2 separate regions of the Homo sapiens genome follow, and region 2 is linked to region 1. Evidence: fine-mapped expression QTL. A gene starts in region 1. The other region holds a variant in brackets. All regions are shown on one strand. Distances are from middle to middle.

Evidence for each region.
Region 2: its variant is fine-mapped to the expression of ATG4B in whole blood (TOPMed, PIP above 0.99).

Annotation. Positions count from the first base shown.
Region 1 is chr2:241,632,531-241,644,966 of GRCh38, forward strand. ATG4B (autophagy related 4B cysteine peptidase) reads left to right here and starts at 5,163. Exons shown (of 13, transcript NM_013325.5): 1 at 5,163-5,194. The coding sequence starts at 5,185. THAP4 (THAP domain containing 4) reads right to left here and starts at 4,628. Exons shown (of 6, transcript NM_015963.6): 1 at 4,411-4,628; 2 at 387-1,549. The coding sequence starts at 4,487. RefSeq lists silencers at 4,151-4,290, 4,361-4,430, 4,461-4,810, 5,181-5,230, 5,251-5,440 and 1 more and enhancers at 4,784-5,711, 6,111-6,644, 12,222-12,436.
Region 2 is chr2:241,665,850-241,676,214 of GRCh38, forward strand. It overlaps ATG4B (autophagy related 4B cysteine peptidase), which reads left to right. Exons shown (of 13, transcript NM_013325.5): 8 at 796-989; 9 at 2,294-2,372; 10 at 2,691-2,836; 11 at 4,877-4,933; 12 at 5,463-5,556; 13 at 6,342-8,008. The coding sequence ends at 6,415. DTYMK (deoxythymidylate kinase) reads right to left here. Exons shown (of 5, transcript NM_012145.4): 5 at 9,898-10,365. The coding sequence ends at 10,278. Among named protein-coding and RNA genes, the nearest start is that of DTYMK, 16 kb to the right of the region's middle. RefSeq lists enhancers at 1-240, 2,335-2,836, 2,837-3,336. The variant T/A (reference allele first, on the strand shown) is at 5,509.

The sequences.
Region 1 (12,436 bases):
TTTTCTGAGAGTTTACTCTCTTATTTTCCATCTAGTTCCTAACTCATCTGGAATTTCTGTTGCATAAGGTATGAAACAGAAGCTATCTTTCCCTGTGCACTCTCCACGGAGGCGTTCAGGCACTCCTGGCTGACGCGTGCTGCCTGCCTCCTTCACGGCCTACATCCCTACACACACAGATGCCTCTTGTGGGACCAGGTGCAGTGAGGCCTGCTTTCTAACCTGGATTCCCTCATCCACAAGGTATGGTTACGACCAGAGCTTCCTCCTGAGAGCGCAGGGAGCTTGTGACACCTCCCAGAAATGCTCAGGGGACGCTGGCCACCTTGCAGAGAAACCCCTCCTAACGGGAAGGGAACATGGGTACGCGAGGCTCCGGTACTGACCGCGGCTGGGCGACAGCAGGCTACTTGGATAGGGGACGCTCACTCTCCTCAGCTCATCCAGCTTCTCCTGTAGCTTCCGCACCTGGCTGTCGGAGCGGCTGACCCTCTGCCGCAGGCTCTTCAGCTCGCCGTTCTTCTTCTCCACCTGCTCCCGCAGGCAGCACACCTGGCTCTTGTTCTGCCGGGAGGAGAAGCAGTAGGAGTGCAGTGAGTCGATGAGCTTGCAGGCCCCTGACGCCGACAGGATGACCTCGTTGATGGACATGGGGCTGGCGTCGCTGTGCTCGCTCTGCACGGCTTCCGTGGCTGGCTTTGGGGTGACGTCGGCAGGAGGGGCAGAGGGGCTCTGGGAAGGCTTCTGCGGTGTCGCGGTAAGTGATGAGCTGGGAGGGCTCTGGGCCAGGCCCTTGTCGGGTCCCAGGCTGCTCCCACTGCAGCTTGGTTCCACATCTTTCTTCAGCCTCTTGCGGTCAATGGGCTCTCGGGGGACAGATGGCCTTTCTCGGGTGTGCTTAGAGGAGAAACTGTACGAATGAAGTGAGCCGATAAATTTGCACGCCCCAGATCCTGGGGGCGTAAAGTCATCCATAGAAATGCCACTCTTATCTGTCACGCCCCCTTCGATGGAGGAAGTGGCGCTCTCATCGCCAGCATCTGTGGCAGACGCTTCTGCTTTTCCCTGACTGCCTGCCACCATGGTGGCCAGTCCATCTCCTGGAGTCCGTTCCAGAGCTTGCTGGGCCTGCTCCTGGCTGGCGGCCTCCTGGGCCGCCCTGGGTGTGGCTTCACCTTGCAGAGCAGCTTGCTTCAACCTGCGGGACTCTGGCTTGGCCATCGGGTTTCCACTCGAGGACGGTGACCAACCTGCAGCTCCTCTGCTGGTGGCGGCACTCGAGTGTCCCCTCACACCCCCTGTGGCCTTGCTGGCATCTTTTCTCCGGGTGCGGCCATGGCCTCCAGCCCCCCTCTTCTTCTCGGTCAGGTGGAAGATGGATGGCACGGCCGTGGGCTTCAGCAGGCGATGCTGGTCCTCCAGCCTCTTGGAGAAGCTGTCTTTGGTGAAATGCTCACTACAGAGAAATGAATACTTAGTGGGAGTCCAGTTATCCCTCTGAACAGCTTTTAACCATTGGATTAGACGTTTTGAGTCCTTTAGGGGGAACCTACAGGACAAATGACAAAAAGTAATTAGAAATAATTAAATGTCTCCCCTTAAAATAATCAACTGTAAAAGCAAAACAAGTATTTTTGCACGCACCCTAAGCCGTATTGACTTCATCCACTTAAAAAAATACTTCAAAAAGATTTAAAGAACATCTTCTACCTGCAGTTATTACTGGAGTAGAAATCTGAAAGACCCGTTGTCTACCCATACAGAGCTTATAGTCTGTAGGGCGGATGGGAAAGAAGGTAACCAACTGCTCCCCAGGCTGTGGTAAATGCCCAATGGGGACACAGGATGCTGACAGACAGTGCCAGGATGGCCTCAGGACAGCAGGAAATAGCTCCTAGAAGCTGACTGCTAACCAACCCTCCCAACTTGCCTGGAAGGTAGGACTCTGGGTACCAAAACCAGGGCCAGCATCCACAGACACTAGGGCGTGAGAGGTCAGGACTGCATGGAGGCAGCCCTGGCTGTGCGCAAGCAGCTGAGAATCTGGAGACCTCCAGAAGACTCCAGAGCTACAGTTCTGTGTTCCTGTTGCATGCCCACCTCCAGGAGTAAAAATGCTCCTTTTAAAAGTCAACCAGCCCAGGGACAGGGCACAATGGTGCTCACCTGCAGTTCCAGTTACTTGGGAGCCTGAGGCTTGAGGGTTCTTTGAGCCCAGAAATTCGAAGTTACAGTGAGCTAAGACTGCACCACTGCTCCCCATCCTGGGGAACAGAGTGAAACCCGGTCTTCTCCCCTCAAAAAAAATCAACCAACTCAGATGATCCTTGAGGACATTATACTGAATGAAATAGGGCAGGTGCAAAAAAACAAACACTGCATGATACCACTCACATGAGGTACTCAGAGTAATCAAATTCATAGAGACAGGAGAATGCGGGTTCCCAGAGCCTAGGGAGAGGAGGACTGGGGTATTAATGTTTAATGAGTCCAGAGATTCCGCTTTACAAAATAAAAATAATTCTGGAGGTGGATGGTAGTGACAGCTGCACAACAACGTGAATGTATTTGTTGCCATGAATTGTACACTGAAAAAGCGGTAGGAAAGGCTGGGAGCCGTGGCTCATGCCTGTGATCCCAGCTACTCTGGAGGCTGAGATGGGAGGACCACTTGGGTCCAGGAGGCTGAGGCTGCAGTGAGCTACGGTCATACCATTGCACTCCAGCCTGGGTGACAGAGTGGGACTCTGTCTCCAAAAAAAGTTAGGATGGTAAATTTCATGTTACATGTATTATACCATAATTTAAAAATGGTGAGAAAAAAGCAACCAGCGCAGGAAGATACTGAATAGGATGTTTAGTCATTTCTTTATTACCTAATAAAGATCCTTCATAACCATTTCTTCATTAAGGCAAACTCTGTGTTTAAGAACATAGGCCTGGGCCGGGCGGGGTGGCTTATGCCTGTAATCCCAGCACTTTGGGAGGCCGAGGCGGGTGGATCACTTGAGGTCAGGACTTTGAGGCCAGAGTTCGAGACCAGCCTGGCCAATATGGTGAAACCCTGTCTCTACTAAAAATACAAAAAAATTAGACAGGCGTGGTGGCGCTTGCCTGTAATCCCAGCTACTTGGGAGGCTGAAGCAGGAGAATAGCTTGAACCCAGGAGCGGGGGTTGCAGTGAGCCGAGATCGCACCAATGCACTCCAGCCTGGGCGACAGAGGGAGACTCCTTCTCAAAAAAAAGAGAAAAAAAGAAAAAAAAACCAGGCCCTAATGTGCACATAAGGGACAGGGTGGTCAGTTCTAACTGCTATTTGCTCCACCTGAGGCCAGTGTGGACCAGGACAAATCCTAACAGGATGGACTGGGCCGTTCTAAGCAACAGGACCTTCTAACCTCCTTTCTGAACACTGTGAGGCCAACTGCAAAGGTACCCCCCCACCCCCAATTCCGATGTCCTTTCCTCCCATACCATGTTAGACCGTTGCAACACGTTGCCTCGTTTTCAAAAAACAATAACAAAACTTCTAGGACACAAGCTCTGAAGGAAATTGTCAAGAAAGTGCGCTGGCTGACTTGTGAAATAATCTAATGTTACTAATTCTTATAATACATTGTAATGATTTAAGACTTACAGCAAACTACTGTGAACTTTCAATAACCCTATAAATAACACGTGCCATTCCCGTCTTTAAAACTTAAATAACACCATGCAACATAAAACAGAAACATCTCCAAAGTGGTTTTTAAAGTCTGTTCGCGGTTCTGGTGCCTCCCGCGTGTAATCCGCAGAAATCTCACTGAAATAGGCTGAACTCACAAGGCCTTAGAGGGGTTTGGGCCCTGCCGCGGGGGCCCACGTGGGAAGCGGCCGAGAGCCCCGGGCCAGGCTCTAAGGGAGCGCAGGAGGATGCCGTCCCCAGCCGGCCGTCCCGTAGACTCTCCGCGCGTACCCGCGTCCTGGGCTCGGGGGCCCAGTCCCGGAAAGCCCTCTCGGGGGCTGTCAGCTACGGAGGCGCAGGTCGCGTCTGCCCGGTCGCTCCTGCTCGCAGACATCCAGGCCGACGGCCCGCGCGGTCCGGAGAGTCAGCAGTCGCGGCCGAGCAGGACAATCGGCCCAGGACCTGCGCTTCCAGAGCGTGCGGCTTCTGAAGCCTAGGCGCCGGCCGGATCGATCGCGCGCAGGGCGGACCCAGGCGGCCGGGGTGGGGGCGGCTGCGCTGCCCGAGGCGCCCGGCCCAGAGACGGCGGCCGGGCCAAGGTCACACAGCGCCCACGCCCGCTCCCCCGCGCCCCGGCCGCCGAGGCCCGGCGCCCCCGCCCCCCGCGTTCGGGCCGGCCGCGGGGCCTCAGTTTCCCCGCAGGGCCGGGTCGGGGCGGGGGCGTGGCGGCCCGGGGCCCGCGTACCTGTGGAAGGAGACGGCGCGCTTCTCGCCCTTTCCCTGCCGGTTGGAGCAGTTCACGGCCGCACAGCAGATCACCATCGCGGGCCTTGGCCCAGCCGCGCAGCCAGGCCCCGGCCCTAGCCGCCCGCCCGCCCGCGGACCGCCCCGAGGGAGGGAGCGCGGCGGCGACACGGCTCGGGACGTGGGCCGGCCCGCGGCGTCCGCGCCGTACGGCAAGATGGAGGCGCAGGCGCCCGCAGCGGGCCCGCCCCCGCCCCAGCCCCCGCCCGCGTCCTCGCCAGCCGCGGGTTCGGGCGTCTTCGGACCAGCGGGGCGCCGCAGGCCCCTCGCAGCGTCCGTCGGCAGGCGGGCAGACGGGCGGGGGAGTCGCCCCGGCGGGGCAAGTCCGTACCGCGACATGGGCGCGCCGAGCACGTCCGTACCGCAAGATGGCTGCTCGGACGGGGACAGAGCTCGCCTCTGCCGCCTCGACAACTGCTCCTGGGTCCTCTAAGAGGAGGAAGCGCCACCCATGGCACACAGTGTCCCGTCGGACAGCAGAACCAGCCGTCGTCCCACGACACGACCCCATGCCGCCCGCAGGGCGCCCCGGGGCTCGCGTCGGCCCGGCCGTACGCCAAAATGGCGGCTCCCGCGTATTTCCGCTCGCGCGCCGTATCGTCTTCGCCGCCTGCGCCGGCACACCTATTGGCCCCCGCGGCGTCCCGTCGCCGCGTCGCGTTGCTGGCCCGTCGGAGCGACGCCGCTCGGGTCAGTCGGCGGCCGGACTGGGAAGATGGACGCAGGTGAGGAGTTGCCGGGGGTCGGTCTTTCCGCAGGAGGTGCTCGCCTTATCATTGGCCTCCCCTGCTCGGGTCGGGCTGCCGCGACTCGCCTCGGGGCACGCCGGTGCGGGCCAGGCTGGGCCGGGGCGGCGGGCGCTGCGGGAGCGCGGGGCGGTGTTGGTGGGTGGTGGGCGGTGGGAGCGGGAGGGGGACGGCGGCGCACTGCGCCGCGGAACCCGCCGTCGGTTGCGCTGGAGCTTCTGCTTTTCCGGTCCCGTCCGGAGCGCTCCGGAGGTTGTGGCTGCACAGGCCCTTGCGCCAGGTCGGCCGTGGAGGGCGGCGGAGCCTGCCGGGCGGGGAGAGGCGCGGCGGCGAACGGGGCGGCCGCGGTCCGGGCCGGGGACGCGAGCGGCGGGCGAAAGCGTAGCCTTTCCGCAGCTGAGCGTGAAGGGATGGAAGCTCTTTAACTTTTATGAAGTTATTGGTAGGTTGGAGGAGAGAAACGTGACGTGTTCATCACAGTATACGTATCTTTTTTGTTTTTGTCTTCAATTTAGTAACCAGTAGATTCTCCAAGCTGCTTTTCCGTGACGAGAAAGAGAAACAGTGAATTTGTATCATCGGGTCTTAGTTTCTTGGGGTCCTAAGAGAGAGAGAAAGAGAAGGAGTGTGTGTGTGTGTGTATAGGGAGTGTTGGTTTTTTTCCTATCCTTTCATGCTTCCGCTCCATTTTTGCTAGCAAGATTATTTTAAGTCAGCGCCAAACCCATCGCTAGCCCAGTAGCCCTAGAAATATTTTTACACAGAAGTTTTAGCTCATTCATTCTTTGTGGGAACTGATTTGCCTTTTACCAAGTATCCCCCATCTGTAAAGAAAGATTTTCATCTGGTTTAATTCTGTCATTCTGAATGGGATTGTTTTTACTTTTTATTTTTCTGGTAGCTACAACATAAATTTATTAAGATCTGAGTTGGAAAACTGTAATGTGTATTGCCAATATCTATTAAAATGATTTGTAGCAGCTCACCACTTAAATGTGGTAGGTGGCTGGAGGAAACAGGAGCCCTGACTCCCTAAGGAGCATGTTGACCAGGTGTATATCTTGTGAAGTTTGTCTTTTAGAATAACCGTCATTCACGGTTGAACTATTTGCAGCTGTGTACTATTTGTTGTTTACTATTTTACAACTGTTGTATTATATCTTTTTAGGTGTTATTGTTTGTGATGCAGGATTTTTCTCAGCCACTCTGGCAGCCAGAGACCTCCGGCTGGCGAGGCCCCTGCCCAGGCCTTGCTTGGGTCCAGGCTCGCCGCAGGAGATACCCCATCTACTTGGTCCACCGGTGGGCACCTGGTTTGCACTATGGCACGGATACCATGGCCACCATGACTGTATGCTCAGCCCCTGGCGGGAGTGGGTGTGTGGGTGAGTGAGTGCCGGGTCCCGCCAGCTGTTTCAAGCGCAGGCACCAGAGTGGGCTCTGCAGAGCTTACAGCTAGACATGTGGCAAGCAACTCCCACGGCGGACTCCAGCGTCCAGACAAAGGGACAGTGGATTCTGGTGTCCAGACAAGGGGAAGGTAGTGGCGCCCAAGCAGGGGTGCTTACAACCCTGAAGCCCAAGAGGGGGTGTTGCAGAGTGTCAGCAGCCCTGTTACTCCCATTGCCCTGCTCCAGGCTATAGCTCTGGGGCTGGCTCCGTCCCCGCTGCTTCCCTTTGCTGCCTCCTGTCACGTGGGGTGTCACAGTGGGTGGCTGCCCTTTGCCGGCAGAGGGCCCAGGGCCACAGTGTTACAGCCTTCTTTGTACTTGCATTCATTGGGTCCCTAGTTCTTGTCCCACGTCCAAGAAGAATGAGACTACACTTAACACTGACAATCGAAGGGTGAGGAGGGTGGAGAATAGTTTTATTGAGTGATGAAACACCCCTCAGCAGAGAGGGGACTCAAGGGTGGTCTTCCACCCAAAGTCGGGTGGTCTCCCTTGGTGTGGCTGGGTCCAGGGCTTTTATAGGCTCAGAATGGGGAGTGTGTGCTGATTTGTCTGTGAGTATGCAAAAAAGGTTAAAACAAAGTCACTACTCAAAGGTGGGCACAACAGTGTAATAAACCAATTAGAGAAAAGTAGGTATATGTAAAATAGGTGAAGGGTGGGGATTAATTAGAGGAAAGCGCACCAAACAGGAAGAGAGGTTCGCAATCCAGTCTGTGGATTTATCCGAGACTCGTCGCTTGGCTTTCAGGCTTTAAACTGTGGCTTGAAGGTTGGGTTTCACTGGTGACCCACCCCTCTCTGCCTAGGATTTGTCTGCCTCCTGCCTCTATCATTTCGATACCTTGAGGCTGGAGTATCATATGAGAGACTTGGCTAAGGTCAAAAACACGGTTCAGTGTCGATCATATGACCTAAAATGTGAAAATCATCATGTTCAAGTTGGGAGAACAGTTATGTTGTTACATGGCGATACTTTATTTTATCTTTTATTTTCCCTTGACAACTGTGTTGACATGGTGATACTTTAATAGGACACTGGATGTTGCTGCATGTGGGATCAGAGTAGAAAAGGTGTTTGCATTTAAAGGTCTCTGTTTATGCTGATAAAAACGTATATGATGTTTGTAGGATATCATGGGGAATTTTCCTTCTGACTTGATGCTGTATTTCCTTTCAGAGATGATTAATGATCTGCCCTCCTTTGATCTCTAGAGTTCTTGAAGATTCTGCCTTCCTTGACCATGTGTAATACAGTTTCTGTTCTGATAGTCATTAATTCAATACACTGTTTGTTACTGACTGTCAGATATGTGTTAGGCATTGTTCTAGACACTAGGACTAGAGAAGTAACAACATAGATGAAAACCATTGCCCTGGGGTAGCTAACGTTCTAGACATGAGACCAGCATTAGCAGCGAAGTGCGTGGCTCCTGGGGGATGGTGATTTGGGCCAAGGATGAGGAGGATTGGAATTGTAGCCAGGATGGCCAGGAAGGGTCTCACTCTGAAGGTTTAAGTTTTGACGAAGACTTAAAGCAGTGTAGGAGGAAGGGCAGGTAGCAAGAGCCTGGTGTGGCTCAGGTGCAGCGGGTGGCGGTGGGAGAAGCAGGAGCTGAGGATAGAAAGGTGACTTAGGCTCAGTGTAGTGGGGCCTTGCCAGCTCATAGTGAGGACTCGGTGTTTATTCTGAACAGGATGGCAGCTCATAGTGAGGACTCAGTGTTTATTCTGAACAGGATGGCAGCCGTTTGGAAGGTTTCATTCTAGAGGAGGAGTCACATGATAGACTGTGTTCAACAGGCTTGCTCTGGCATCTCTTTTGAGAATGTACTGCAGAGGGGCAAGGGCAGAGGCAGCGAGACCAGCTAAGAGACTGTTGAACAAGCCAGCAAGGAGATGCCAGTGGATTAGCTCAGGGTGGGTAAGAGGTTGACTTCTGCATGTGTTTTGGAGGTTGAGACAATAGAATTTGTTTGTAGATTGGAAGTTGGGAGAGGGATGGGTAGAGAGGGAGGAGTTAAAGATGGCCCCATAGTGTATGGCCTGAGCTAAGCAACTCAGATGGAGGGGGGCGGGCGTGGTGGCTCACGCCTGTAATCCCAGCACTTTGAGAGGCCGAGGTGGGCGGATCACAAGGTCAGGAGATCGAGACCATCCTGGCTAACACGGTGAAACCCCGTCGCTACTAAAAATACAAAAAATTAGCCGGGCATAGTGGCGGGCGCCTGTGATCCCAGCTACGCAGGAGGCTGAGGCAGGAGAATGGCGTGAACCCGGGAGGCGGAGCTTGCAGTGAGCCAAGACTGCGCCACTGCACTCCAGCCTGGGCGACAGAGCGAGACTCTGTCTCAAAAAAAAAAAAAAAAAGAAACTCAGATGGGGAAGACTTGGGGAGGTCCTGTCTGGTGGGAAGCTTTCTGTTGCGAGTTTGGATTTATGTGTGTTGAATGTGAGGTGGATGTTAGACATCCTTGTAGAGCAGTGTCCAGTGGGCTTTTGGGTCTACAGGTTTGGAGCTAAAAGAATAAGCCTGGGCTGGAGATAGACTGGAGGTCACATCAGATGAGGTCACCCAGGGTGTGAATGTGGGTGGGAAAGAAAAGAGGCCAAAGGCCTCTGCGGGTGTGGAGAGGTCCAGGAGGTGGCAGGCAGACCACAGTGTGGCTGTGTTCTCCACCAGTCCCTAGCACTGTCCCTAAAAGCATGCTCCCCATTCAGACGACTGGCAGGTGCCAGCACTTAAATAGCCACACTGCCCATTCCTTGAGGACAGAGCTGGTGTCTTGTGCTTGCATTTCTAGTGCATCACTTGTGTCTGGCATGTGGTTGGTAATAAAAAAAAAACAGAACTTGAATTAATAATAACCTACACATTCCCCTACTATCAAAGCTTTCAGTTTGTAGAGTTTAACATAAATCCAGTATGTTAGCATAACATGTAATGAATGCAGAGGCTGCTGGGGAGTGGTTTTTTTTTTTTTCTTGAGATGGAGTCTTGCTCTGTTTCCCAGGCTGGAGTGCGGTGGGCGCGATCTAGGGGAGTGGGTTTTAATGTGCGCAATCTGCCCAGTGTGTGCACTGAAACAGTGTTTTCTAGCTTTCTGATGTAGCTAAATTTGGAGTTCCTTTCTCTCTTTCTCTGTTTTCATTCAGGACTGAACTACTAGCATTCTCATGTAAACTCTTGGAGATTTAAAAAAAAGTAGTAATCATATGCAAACTGTTATCTTAAACCTAAGAGCTTTCTAAAGGAAAAGAAGAACCTTTGTTGAATTTATAAAATATAAATCTTTTGGAAAATAACTTCTAAGTGTTTTAGGAAGGTTTCTTCGAAATGAAGTGGTTTACAGTAAGCTCTTAAATTTACTCGTTTTTTTTTGTAGTCCTCTCTGGTTGAATGAAGTGTAATTGGTACTAAATGGAGAGAAGTTGGTTAAATTCATTGAGTACAATTCCCTACATTTCTGCCTGTCAGATTAGTAGTACTAAGTCACATGTTTTTTCTGATGGAATTACTATATTATTAAAATGCCATCTGCCCTCTTCTGCTTGTGATCGCAGAAGTCCCAGGGAAGAGGGCGTGGAAAATCAAGTGTCTGGGATCCAGCCGACCAAATGGGAGAACTGCTTCTAAGGGGGACTCTTTCTTAAGGTGTACAGCACCTCTCCGTCCTTTTTTTTTTTTTTTTTTTTTTTTTTAAGACGGAGTCTCACTGTCGCCCAGACTGGCTGGAGTGCAGTGGCTCTATCTCAGCTCACTGCAGCCTTCGCCTCCTGGGTTCAAGAGATTCTCCTGCCTCAGCCTCCCGAGTAGCTGGGATTACAGGTGTGCACCACCATGCCTGGCTAACTTTTTTATATTTTTAGTAGAGATGGGGTTTCACCATGTTGGCCAGGCTGTTCTCGAACTTCTGACCTCAAGTGATCTGCCCGCCTCGGCCTCCCAAAGTGCTGGGATTACAGGTGAACCACCACACCCAACCTACTTCTTCATCTTGTTCCTCCTGCGTGTCATCTTTTTTTGAGGCAGGGTCTCACTTCATCGCTCAGACTGGAGTATGGTGTTGCGGCCTCAGCTCATTGCAGCCTTGACCTCCTGGGCTCAAGTGATCTTCTTGCCTCACATTCCTCAGTAGCTAAGACTACAGATGTCCACGCCTAGCTATTTTTTTTTTTTTTTTTTTTTTAAGAGAGACAGGGTCTCCCTGTATTGCCCAGGCTGGTCTCAAACTCCTGGGCTCAAGTGATCCTCCCATCTTGGCTTCTTAAAGTGCTGGGATTACAGGCATGAGCCACGGCACCTGGCCTTACATGTCATCTTATTTCAAATTAATATCATTACCTGGAAGTCTAGAGATGGGTCTATATATTTATTTATGTATATATGTACATATATATATAAACATATATATACGTATATATACACATAAATATATACACATATATGTATAAATATATATATACGTGTGTGTGTGTGTGTGTATGTATATATTTTCCCCCCCCCCCGTCGTCCAGGCTGGAGTGCAGTGGCGTGATCTCGGCTCACTGCAACGGGGTTTTGCCATGTTGGCCAGGCTGGTCTTGAACCCTTGACCTCAGGTGATCCACCCACCTTGGCCTCCTAAAGTGCTGGGATTACAGGTGTGAGCCACTGCACCCGGCGAGTGGATATTTTTTCCGAAGTTTGACTCCTTTTCTATCAGGAGCTACATGAATTACCTTATAAATCACATGATGTGGCACGGGAAGATGATGAAATTATGACAGGGGCTATGAAATAAGACAAGGGAACCTCTCCATGGCGAATTGCTGAGGCAGCTGGTGTCAGGCCTAAGTGGATCTCATACATCTGAGAGTCAGTGAAGGAACAAGTGTGGTGGCTCACACTTGTAGTCCCAGCACTTTGGGAGGCTGAGGTGGGTGGATCACTGGAGCCCAGGAGTTTGAGACCAGCCTGCTTAACATAGGGAAACCCCACCTCTACAAAAAATACAAAAATTAGGCATGACGGTGCATGCCTGTAGTCCCAGCTACTCAGGAGGCTGAGGTGGGAGGATCCCTTGAGGCCGGAAGGGGGAGGTTGCAGTGAGCTGAGATCACACCACTGCACTCCAGCTTGGGTGACAGAGCCAGACCCTTGGGTGACAGAGCCAGAAGGAACGTTTGGGAATGGAATCATCGTGTTGGTCGATCTGCAGATGTTAGTGATTGTGAGCGTTAGTTTTGCACCCATTGTGGGTTCTCACCCCACTTGGAAAACTGGTGGCTGTGCCCCATTTCATGGGTGAGGAGACTGAGGCTGGAAGAAGTCCAGGCCTGTGTCTGTCCTGTAGCTATCGACCAGGCTCTCAGACTCCAGAAACAAACCTCAGTAGGAATCAGAAGTGTTGGCCGGGCGCGGTCTGCCTGTAGCTATCGAGCAGGCTGTCAGACTCCAGAACCAAACCTCAGTAGAAATCAGAAGTGTCGGCCGGTTGCGGTGGCTCATGCCTGTAATCCCAGCACTTTCGGAAGCTGATGTGGGCGGATCATCTGAGATGAGGAGTTCGAGACCAGCCTGACCAACATGGGAGAAACCCATCTCTACTAAAAATACAAAATTAGCCAGGCGTGGTGGCACACACCTGTAATCCCAGCTACTCGGGAGGCTGAGGCAGGAGAATCGCTTGAAACCGGGAGGCGGAGGTTGCAGTGAGCCGAGATCGTGCCATTGCACTCCAGCCTGGGTGACGAGCAAAACTCCATCTCAAAAAAAAAAAAAGAAAGA
Region 2 (10,365 bases), 32 kb after region 1:
GTGCAGTGTGCTACCTGTCACCTGTCTGTCACCTGTCAGTCACTGTCACCTGTCACTGTCACTGTCACCTGTCACTGTCCATCTTTTTGATGCTTGACGGTTCCACCTTTGGCCGGTGGCCACCTCAGTCTGGTGGTGTCTTTTGCCGTGTTCTGGCGTTTTTCGTTTATGTTTTGAGCCCTCCCTTATGTTCTGGGTTAAGCAGATGCTGCAGGCACCTCTGAACATTCCCTGCCTGGCCCTGGAATCAGCCTGGCTCCTCTGAGTGGGGAGTGGTGTTGAGAAACCTCGATCTAGACGCCGGGCATGCTCCATGCTCCCGGAGTGTCTTCTCCCATCACCGCACCCTCCGGTTGATGTGTCCTCCGGACCATTGACTCACGGGTGTGTGTAGGCAGAAGGGGTGGAAGCGAGGAAAGGCGTTGCTGAGGAGGCCCGGAGGGAGCGGGTTCTGGCTGTGCTGGCACTAGCCAGGCTGGCAGGCTGCGTGGGTACTTCTGTGATTTTCCTCTCAAGTGCACGTGGCTTTTTCTTGCACTGTTTCGTGTGTGTGCTTTATTTCACAATAAAACTCTTGAATTAAGTATGCATAGAAACTATTTCTTTTTTCTCTGGGTGGCAAGATTATGAAAAAATTTTCTTACGCTTTTCTATATTTTCCAAGTTTGAATTTCACTGTAAGCACCTGGCTTTGTACCGCCCTTTTTCTGTTACACAGTCATCATTTGCTTGCTTGTTGTGGGAGCACTTTTGCACAGGTCTGCTTGGTTAGTGAAAGCATGTCTCCCTTTCTAGGAAGGTTGTGCAGGACCAGCGTTCCCTGTGCAGGCGCCACTGCGTTTCCTGCAGATTCCGACCGGCACTGCAACGGATTCCCTGCCGGAGCTGAGGTCACCAACAGGCCGTCGCCATGGAGACCCCTGGTACTTCTCATTCCCCTGCGCCTGGGGCTCACGGACATCAACGAGGCCTACGTGGAGACGCTGAAGGTGGGTCCTGCCGTGCGGCGCTTGCCCTGAGTCCCCGTCCCCTTCTCCCAGTTCTTAGTCACTTTCAGCGCATCGTCGTCACGTGGCCATTTGTGCAGCCGGCTCTCGGGGGAGGGGTAAACAACCCTGGTTTACACCGTTGCCCAAGGGGTGAGTGGGCGTGAGGCACGTCCATCAGTAGGCACGTGCTGCTTTCGTTCTGCAAGTGTCAAGGCGAGTGTCGAGGATGAAAGCATGAGGCGCTTGCAGGGGGTCCTTGGAACCAGGTGCCACTCCTCGGCCTGACGGGGAGCCCCGCCCCCTCCCGGGTCTCCACTGTGCCCCAGGCATGCCCACCCCACTCCCCCACAGCCCTCTTGGCCTGAGGTCCCTTCGGAGGGTGGGTTGGCCTGTGAGGAAGGGACGTGTGGGCAGGGCCTGGGGATGGGCAGGGCTGTGTGAGGAGCTCCAGCCACAGGCTCCCCCATGTCATGAAAGCAAAAGGGGGCGGGGAGCGGTGGCTCATGACTGTAATCCCAGCACTTTGGGAGGGCAAAGCGGGCAGATCACGAGGTCAGGAGTCTGAGACCAGCCTGGCCAACATGGTGAAACCCTGTCTCTACTAAAAATATAAAAATTAGCCGGGCATGGTGGTGCGCGCCTGTAGTCCCAGCTACACAGGAGGCTGAGGCAGGAGAATCTCTTGAACCCAGGAGGCGGAGCTTGCAGTGACCCGAGATCATGCCATTGCACTCCATCCTGGGTGACAGAGTGAGACTCCATCTCAAATAAAAAAAAAAAAAAAGCAAGCAGAAGGGAAAACCATCCTTTCTTCAGGTAACTCAAATTTTAGACCAAGGAGTCACATTTGTATGGAACTGAAATGTGGCTTCCTGTTAAAATTATTCAGTTGTCTGAACTTGGCCCCTCCGTCCAGCCTTCTGCCCATCCTGTGGGGTCTCAGCTGCCCCCACACATAGGCCCCGTCTCCATCGCTTCTGCCCTGTCAGGTCAAAGCACTCAGCAGGGCCACCTCCCGCACCCCTGCTCACATCTCCTGCCAGGCCCCCTCACTCCCGGCCTCCCCAAAGCCCACCTCTGACATGAAGCTTCCCTGAGCTGAGCCTGCAGATTGGGTTTCTTGTGCCTGTGGGATGTCCTGTGGTCTTTCCTGGACAGTAAGCTCTTTGGTACCATGTCCCCTCCTGTCCCCTCTTGTGTCACCCAGTTGGGCCTCAGCAGGCCCTTGGGCCCCCTATGGCAGTGGGTGGGGGGACCGTCTGCTCCCACCTGGGACCTGTGCTCAGTCCCCCGCCCCTCCACAGCACTGCTTCATGATGCCCCAGTCCCTGGGCGTCATCGGAGGGAAGCCCAACAGCGCCCACTACTTCATCGGCTACGTTGGTGAGTCCAGGGTTCCCACCGTGTCCCTGTGGGCCTGGGCCTTTTAAGGGCATTCCATGAGCAGGTACCACACCCCAGGTGACCACTTGAGGCCACTGGTGGAAAAGCAGCATGCCCTGGGGTTCATTTTCAGCCTGGTCGCGGGCGGCCTCCTGTGTGCCCCTTTCCCTGATGGTCTGGTGCCCTCGGCTCCCTCCCCACCTCCTGCCCACTGCTTCTCAGTGTGATGTGGGTGCAGTGGGTCTGAAATGCGGCCTCCTCTGTCCCTTTCCTCTGCCGGCTCGGCCACCCACCTGCCCACCTGCCTCATCCTCCCAGGTGAGGAGCTCATCTACCTGGACCCCCACACCACGCAGCCAGCCGTGGAGCCCACTGATGGCTGCTTCATCCCGGACGAGAGCTTCCACTGCCAGCACCCGCCGTGCCGCATGAGCATCGCGGAGCTTGACCCGTCCATCGCTGTGGTACGTGGCGGCCACCTGAGCACACAGGCATTTGGTGCTGAATGCTGTTTGGGAATGACGAGGAAAACTTTCGGATTTTTGCGTTTTTTTTTTCAGCATGTTGGGATAAGTACTGTGTTCACGTGGTTGGGAATCTGAAGGGTATAAGAGCCGGAACTGTGTCCTTGCACCCTCACGTCCCTCCCCCAGGCACCACCTCCTGTGCAGCCTTCATGGCCTTCGAGTGGCCCAGAGAGCGTGTGTCTGGATGTGAGCGTGTGTGGGCGCGTGCTGAGTGTGCATGGATGAGTGTGAGCCATGGTGAGTGTGTCCCCCTCACACCTACATTTAAACACACGGGCGGCCCCTCCACCCACCCCTGCACCACCTTCGTCACACCCACATTTAAACACGGGCGGCCCCTCCACCCACCCACTCCTGCACCACCTTTTGTTTTCCGGAGGCTCTGACTTGACCTCTCTGGGGGATTTCCTAAGAAGGAGCTTCCCTGTTTTTCCATTTTGATTACCTAGTTGTGATTTTTGGTGTGTGATTTATGCAGACCTGCCTGCCCTCAAATATATTTGATGGGGAAAGAGGCCAAAAAACCCCCCTAGAAATCATGAATGACGGTGACATGCTCAGGGAAGCAGTTAACCGAATCGGGGGCTCTGTTGTGGATGCTCCGCCCCATTTAGGAGGAAGAAGGCAGATCTGGGCCTGAAATGGGACGGTCTCTGAGCTGTGGCGCAGCCCCAGAGTGCACACCACGCTCCATGCACCTCCTGGGCAGGGTGGCAGTAGTGGGGAACATGGGCTGGAGCTCTGTGGCTCACACTTTTTGTTTGTTTGTTTGTTTTTGAGACGGAGTCTCACTCTGTCGCCCAGGCTGGAGTGCAGTGGCACGATCTCGGCTCACTGCAAGCTCCGCCTCCCAGGTTCACGCCATTCTCCTGCCTCAGCCTCTGGATTAGCTGGGACTACAGGCACCCGCCACCACGCCTGGCTAATTTTCTGTATTTTTAATAGAGACGGGTTTTCACTGTGTTAGCCAGGATGGTCTTGATCTCCTGACCTCATGATCCACCCACCTCGGCCTCCCAAAGTGCTGGGATTACAGGCGTGAGCCACTGCGCGCAGCCTGGCGCACACTTCTTACCAGAACCTAGTCACGAATTCCTCGTCGAACTAGAATTAGGTATGTTTGTTACTGTAAACGCAGCTTGGTGGCTTACAGTGATTGGCACTCTAACAGTCAGGTCAGGCTAGAGAGCCAGCCACCGCAGACAGAGGAGTGGACGCGTGAACGTTGAGTTGAGACCAAAGGGGCCACCTGGTGGGATAACTGTCCTCACCCGTGAGGAGGAGGAATGTCCCCTGTCCCCGGGGGAGAGTGCTCCTACACCAGCGCCGAGGCGGCAGAATGGTGTCTTCAGGGGAAGAGAGTGCCCAGTTTGAGCTTCTCCCCCCATTTCGTTTCTTTTTGTGTTAACATCTGCGCATCTGGCAGCGTTGAGAATTCCTAGTGACTGTCATTACAGGCGGCAGCTTTAAGGATGTGATTGCCGGTGACCCTTGGCCGGTCCCCTGTCTCCTGGCTCCTCAGCAGGAGGCTCCCTGTGTCACGGTGTCCTTGGGCAGTTCTCGGTGGCCTTTGCCGCCAAGCTTCCAGGGAGCTGCTGGGCGAAGGCTGAGACCCAGCGGCCCTGCCTCACAGTCACAGAGAGAAGAGCTCCCCACTTGGCCCTAACTCATAACCTGCCCCAATCCCGGAACACTCGGTGAGGTTTGAGAGATGCACACCACGTAACATCTCGTGGGCGAATCAAGGCACAGCAACGCAGTGGAGCCTGAGGGGAGCCGGGCACTGGTGCAGGGGACCATGCACAGGGCACCCTCGGAGCTCCGTTCCTGGCCACAGGAGCCAAGGCAGGCTGGAATGTCCAGCACCTGCATGCTGGGGGCCTCTGCTGCGCCACTGGCAGTGGGAATGGAAGCCCCCACCTCTTAGCCGACTGCAGATGGGGGTGTCGTGTTCTGCTCATCGTCATTTCGTTTTAGGGGTTTTTCTGTAAGACTGAAGATGACTTCAATGATTGGTGCCAGCAAGTCAAAAAGGTTTGTAGCCGCCCCACACCCACAGCCGAGCTGAGCCACCCAGGGAGACAGGCAGTGGGGCGTGCAGGGGTCGAAGGCCTGCGTCCAGGTCTCAGGCAGCCTCACTGGGCCGTGGGGAGCTTTGTCCCGCCTGGCACAGCTATGTAGCTGAGCAGGGTGGGGCGTCCTGGATTGCCCATCTGGCAACACAGTTAACAACCCTGGGGACGGATGTTGCGTGTTGACTTTAGAATGGGATTTCCAGTGTCCTCATCCGTCTCCTGTTGAGATGGGGGTGGTGATGGGGTGCTGAGCTACGCCGGCCGAGTGCGTGTGGCCCACCCCCCTCTGCCGTGGTGGTCAGACTGTGCTGTGTGTTGATCACCACACTGGGTTCTCGTGTAGCCTTTAGTGTGGAGCTGCCTCTGTTTTCTCATCAGTGAGATGGGATGACAGGTTTGTCCGCTGGCTGTGGCCGGCTGGCCCCTTTCTCTTGGCCGCAGCAAGCACTGGGGTGAGGCTGCACCTAACGGCCATGTCTCACTAACAGCTGTCTCTGCTTGGAGGTGCCCTGCCCATGTTTGAGCTGGTGGAGC[T/A]GCAGCCTTCACATCTGGCCTGCCCCGACGTCCTGAACCTGTCCCTAGGTGAGAGCTGCCAAGTCCAGGTGGGGTCCCTCGGAGGTACGATCTGTGCCCTTGCTTCCCCAGTCCTGGCCCCCTTGGTTTTGACCATTAAGGTGTGTGTGAGCCTGAGCCGTGAGCACTTGGCAGTGGTTCGCCTGTGAGACCAGGTATGGAGTGGAGCGTCCCCTCCTCCAAGCTTGCGCCCAGCAGCCCAGGACCCACCTCGTCTTCCCCACCAGCGCTGCCTGCCCGGGCGCTGTGGAGCTGGGCGTGCTACCATGGAGTCCTCAGGGGTCTGGAGCAGACAGAACATGCAGGCTCTGTGGTGACGCAGTCCTGGGTGGGGGACTGGTTCACTTGGGCACCACTGGCCATGGGTGGCGTAGACCCCTCGGACCATGGCCAGCGTGCCGCAGGAGCCGGCCTGGGCTCGTGCAGTGAAGTGAGTGGCCGTGAGCGCGTCCTCCTCATCTCTGTCTCCCTGTGGGAAACTCTACAAACAAGGCAATGGCAATGGAACCACTCCTGATGACCACGAGGGTCAGACGCGGGACAGAGGCCCCTCAGGCCTGAGATTGTGCCGGCCGCCCCCTGCCCTCCTCACCCTGCCCTGCTCCTCTTCTCTGCTCCCTCCCCCCATATTCGCAGGTCTGCACAACCCCCGGACCTGTTCACACCCGCATGGGGACAGCTGTCTGTGGGCTGCAGAGCAGGCACTGCTCAGTCTGCCCCACGCCAAGGGCCCTTGACTCACACCCAGGTGGCCCACCCAAGATGCCTGATGCGCTATGTCCTGTTCCTTCTAGATTCTTCTGATGTAGAGCGACTGGAAAGATTCTTCGACTCAGAAGATGAAGACTTTGAAATCCTGTCCCTTTGAAAATCCTGGGGTCGGGGGTGGCACCTGTGAGAGCCTGGGGCTCCTGGTGCCGCTGCGTTTCATCCATCCCGCCCGCTCGCCTGCCGAGGGCTGCGCCCCGTGCTGCCTCCCCCCAGAGGGCCACCCGCTGTGCTCGTGGACTGAGGCTGCGCTGCCCGGGAGGCCTTACTGCTTGGTGTCAGACTGCCCAGCTCAGAGTGCCCGTCAGGGCCTGTGCATCCGCACGCGGAGCCGTCTGTTAGGAGCTTCCAGAGTGTTCTCTCGACACTGCCAGCCCCGTGTTAGCACCTGGGCCTCAGTCCCACTTGCTCCCAGGCGCCGGTTCTGTGGTTGGTTTGGAATTAAAGTCCTGTTTGAAGTTGTCAGACACAGACATGAATTTCTGGGCGCTCCCTGAGTCAGAGTCTCAGAAGACCTGTGCAGGCTGGCGTGAGAGGAGCGGCAGCCACACTGCGGCCCCACGCCCAAGGACTGGGCTGCTCTCGAGGGGGGCGCGCCCACCGCTGTGTCCTCTCTGCCCAGCCTGGCTTACCAAGGGCTACCTCAGTGGGAGATGAGGTTGGAGGAACGAAGGCGAGGTTCCTCCTTGCTTTGGGGAGAAAAGTATTCAGGAAGTGGGTGTGTGGGAAACCTGAAGATGGCGTGCACAGGACACAGCGTGGGCGGCCTGGGCAGAAGGGCGGCTGGCTGTCCTGGAGCTGCTGCTGGAGCCTGCCCTCAGAGTGTCCCTTTCCAGTGCTGTGGCATTCTGTGGCAGCTTCCCCAGGTGTGGTGACGGGGGGGGGGCGGGGCCTCCACCTGTGACAGCCAGGCTTGAGGGTGGACGGCGTGCCTCTCCCAGGAGCCTTCCCCATGTCCTTGCCTTGCTGAGAATTGCCCTCCCATGCCGCTGAGGTGTTAGGTGGTTTAGGGCCAAAAGGGGAAAACCACTTGAGTCTTGTGGTGTGTGGTGGGCAGACACCACAGGGTGGCATCACCTGGTGGCATTTCCAGAACCTCAGCCCCGATTCCAGCACCCACCACCGCCTGACCCTGTGTAACCTGCTGTCCCGGGTCCCAGAGTGCACTCTGCCCCGCTGCTCTGCTGCCTGTCCTGGGAAAGTATCTTTGCCCCACTAGGAAATGTAAACAGGAGGGCTTGGGGAGCGTGGGCACTTTTCTCATGAGCAGCTACTGCGGCGTTGGCAGGACTCGCTGCTGCTGCTGCTGCTTGTGTAGGTCGGGGAGCCAGAGATCCCCGAGGACGCGCGCCGGACAGTCGGCACTGACCGGCCCACCTGGTAGCAGAGGACACCCCCAGCCCCCCAAGCATTGAAGACATAGTGTATTTCCTCGTATCCTTTCTCCCTTGGGTGTAGTTGGGGTGGGGAAGCAGGGAAGGCTGGTGCGATCTCCATTCCTTGGGCTCCACGTCCGAGTTCATGGTGCGCCGCTGTGCTGGGAGCTGCAGTGGTAATGTGTGGGACACCTTGACCAAAGGGGAGCTTTGTCTCGTGTGTTTTGAAAAAGGCTTAATGAAGAGAATGTTGTTCATTCTTAGTAGTATAGTTTGCAATTCTTAATGGCAAATAATAAGTTTCAGTAGAAAACAAACCTTGTGTCTATTTTTTCCTTAAGTTCTAATTGAATGTGAGTTCCAGAAAAAAAATAAGTGAATGTTTCAGCCCGTTCACACGTAAAGGATGTGGCTGCCTGCGTGGCGGGCTGTGGGGCCCTGAGCAGGTGTGTCCCCAGCCCTGGCAGGGGGCCTGTCCTGCCTGCAGCCTGGCTCTCTACCAGCCGTGGCATCAGCCACCTCATACAACCCTAGAAGGAAAAAGTGCAAGGAAAATAGGATTTTAGGAAAGTAAAATGGCGGTTCCCATCTTCAGCAGGAGGAAGTCACAGGAAGTGCCTGGAGTTGCAGGGTTTGCCTCGATTTGAATCATAGCAAAGCCTTCCCCAAGTGCGCAGTGACTGTCCTGGCCTGTGGGAGGCCATGCCTGGGGCACAGCAGGGGGCTTGGTGAGGACATTGCTCACTCTGGCCAGTGCATCCCTGTGGGCAGCCCTGGTATAGGTGTGAAGGGCCCAAAGCCAGATCGGAGGGGGCCCTGCTGGGTCCCCGGTGAGGTGGCTGAGGACTTGTGGCCTCTCCGATGCTCGTATTCGCTTCTTGTGGCTGCTCTAAAAGATGATCACATTCAGTGCCTGGAACAGCACAGCCTCTTCCAGACCCGGAGGGCAGACAGCCATATCGTGCTGTGGGCTCTAGGGGAGAACGTTGCTGTGCCTTTCTAGCTTCTGGATGCCAGAAACTGCTTGGCTCATGGCTCTTTCCTCCAACCACACAGCCAGCAACATGGCATCTCTCCAGCTTTTGCTGTTGGCATCTCATTTCCTGACTCGGACCGCCTGCCTCCCTGTTATGCGGACCCGTGATGGGCCAGGCATGGTGGCGCCAGCCTGTAATCCCAGCACTTTGGGAGGCTAAGGTGGATCACTTGAGCCCAGGAAAGAGAGGCTGCAGTGAGTCAAGATTGCACCACTGCACTCCAGCCTGGATGACAGAGTGAGACCCAGTCTTAAGACAACAAAAAAAGGCCCCTGTGATGACACTGGGCCCACCTGGATAGTCCAGGAAAGTCTCATCTGAAGGTTCCTCACCCAGGCCCATCCCACAGCCCCTGGCAATGCTTACCCAAGAGTGAAATCCTTTTGTTTTGCCTGGGTTTGTCTCTTGGCCACAGAAGGGTGCTGAGACCCACAGCTGCTGCCCCCACAGATGGGGGACCCTGCCTGCCTTCTACTCCAGCACACTGTATGCTGCTGTCTATGCGGAGTGTGCTCTGTGGGACAGATTCTGCCAGGAGTGTCAAATCATTCCTTCTAAGTGTCACTTAAAAGGGGATGCAATGGGCTCGGCATGGTGGCTCATGCCTGTACTCCCAGCACTTTGGGGAGGCCAAGGCAGGTAGATCACTTGAGCCCAGGAGTTTAAGACAAGCCTGGCTGGCAACATAGCGAAATCCTGTCTCCACAAAAAAATTACCCAGGCACAGTGAAGGCCTGTAGGCCTAGCTACTCAGGAGGCTGAAGTAGGAGGATCACCTGAGCCCAGGAGGTCAAGGCTGCAGTGAGCCACGATCGTGCCACTGCACTCCAGCCTGGGCGACAGTGAGACCCTGTTTCCAAAAAAATAAAAAATAAAGGATAGGATGAGAAGTTAAGCTCCAGGGTTGCAATGAAAATAGCAGAGTTAACTTAGGTGAGTTCAGGACGTAAGCTGTGATGACACTCGGATATAGCCTGGCTGGACCCAGCGAGCCCAGGGCATGGCTGCAACTGTTCAGACCCACAGTGGGACTCCCTCAACTAGGCAGGAACCAGGGTCCAGGAAGGCCCTACTGGGCCCAATGAAGGCTCTTCTCTCCTGGGATGGAGGTTCCCATTCAAAGCCAGCTCCGTCCTCAGTCTAAGAAAAGTGAAGCGTTCCACAAACAATTTTCAGGTCGTTTTTTACTAGTGTCTGGAAGACATTTAGGAGAATTCCAACTGATTACCATTTACAGTGATCACAATGAAACTGCTCAGAGTTATCACTGAACTTCAGTAAGAAAATACAACAGAGTGCCATCAGGACAGGGGAGAGGGCAGGAGACTGCTCCATCGCTCTGCTCATGTCCACACTGCCAAGGTCCCCACCACGGGGGTCCCCAGTGCACCCCAGCTCCGGGGCAGAAGAGGCAGCCTGCAGATCTCTGCTGCCGGGAAAGAGCTCCTGAAGTTGTGGGGTCTGGACTCTGCTGGGGACGGGGCCTTCCGCGAGTCTCCCACCTCTCGGGGGACTGCAGGGAGAGGCGTCTCCAGTGGGCAGCCTTGGGTCACTTCCATAGCTCCCCCAGCGGCTTCTCTGTGGCAGTGCGGATGGCGTCCTCAGAGAGCACGCGGATGTCCTCATGGACAGCTTCG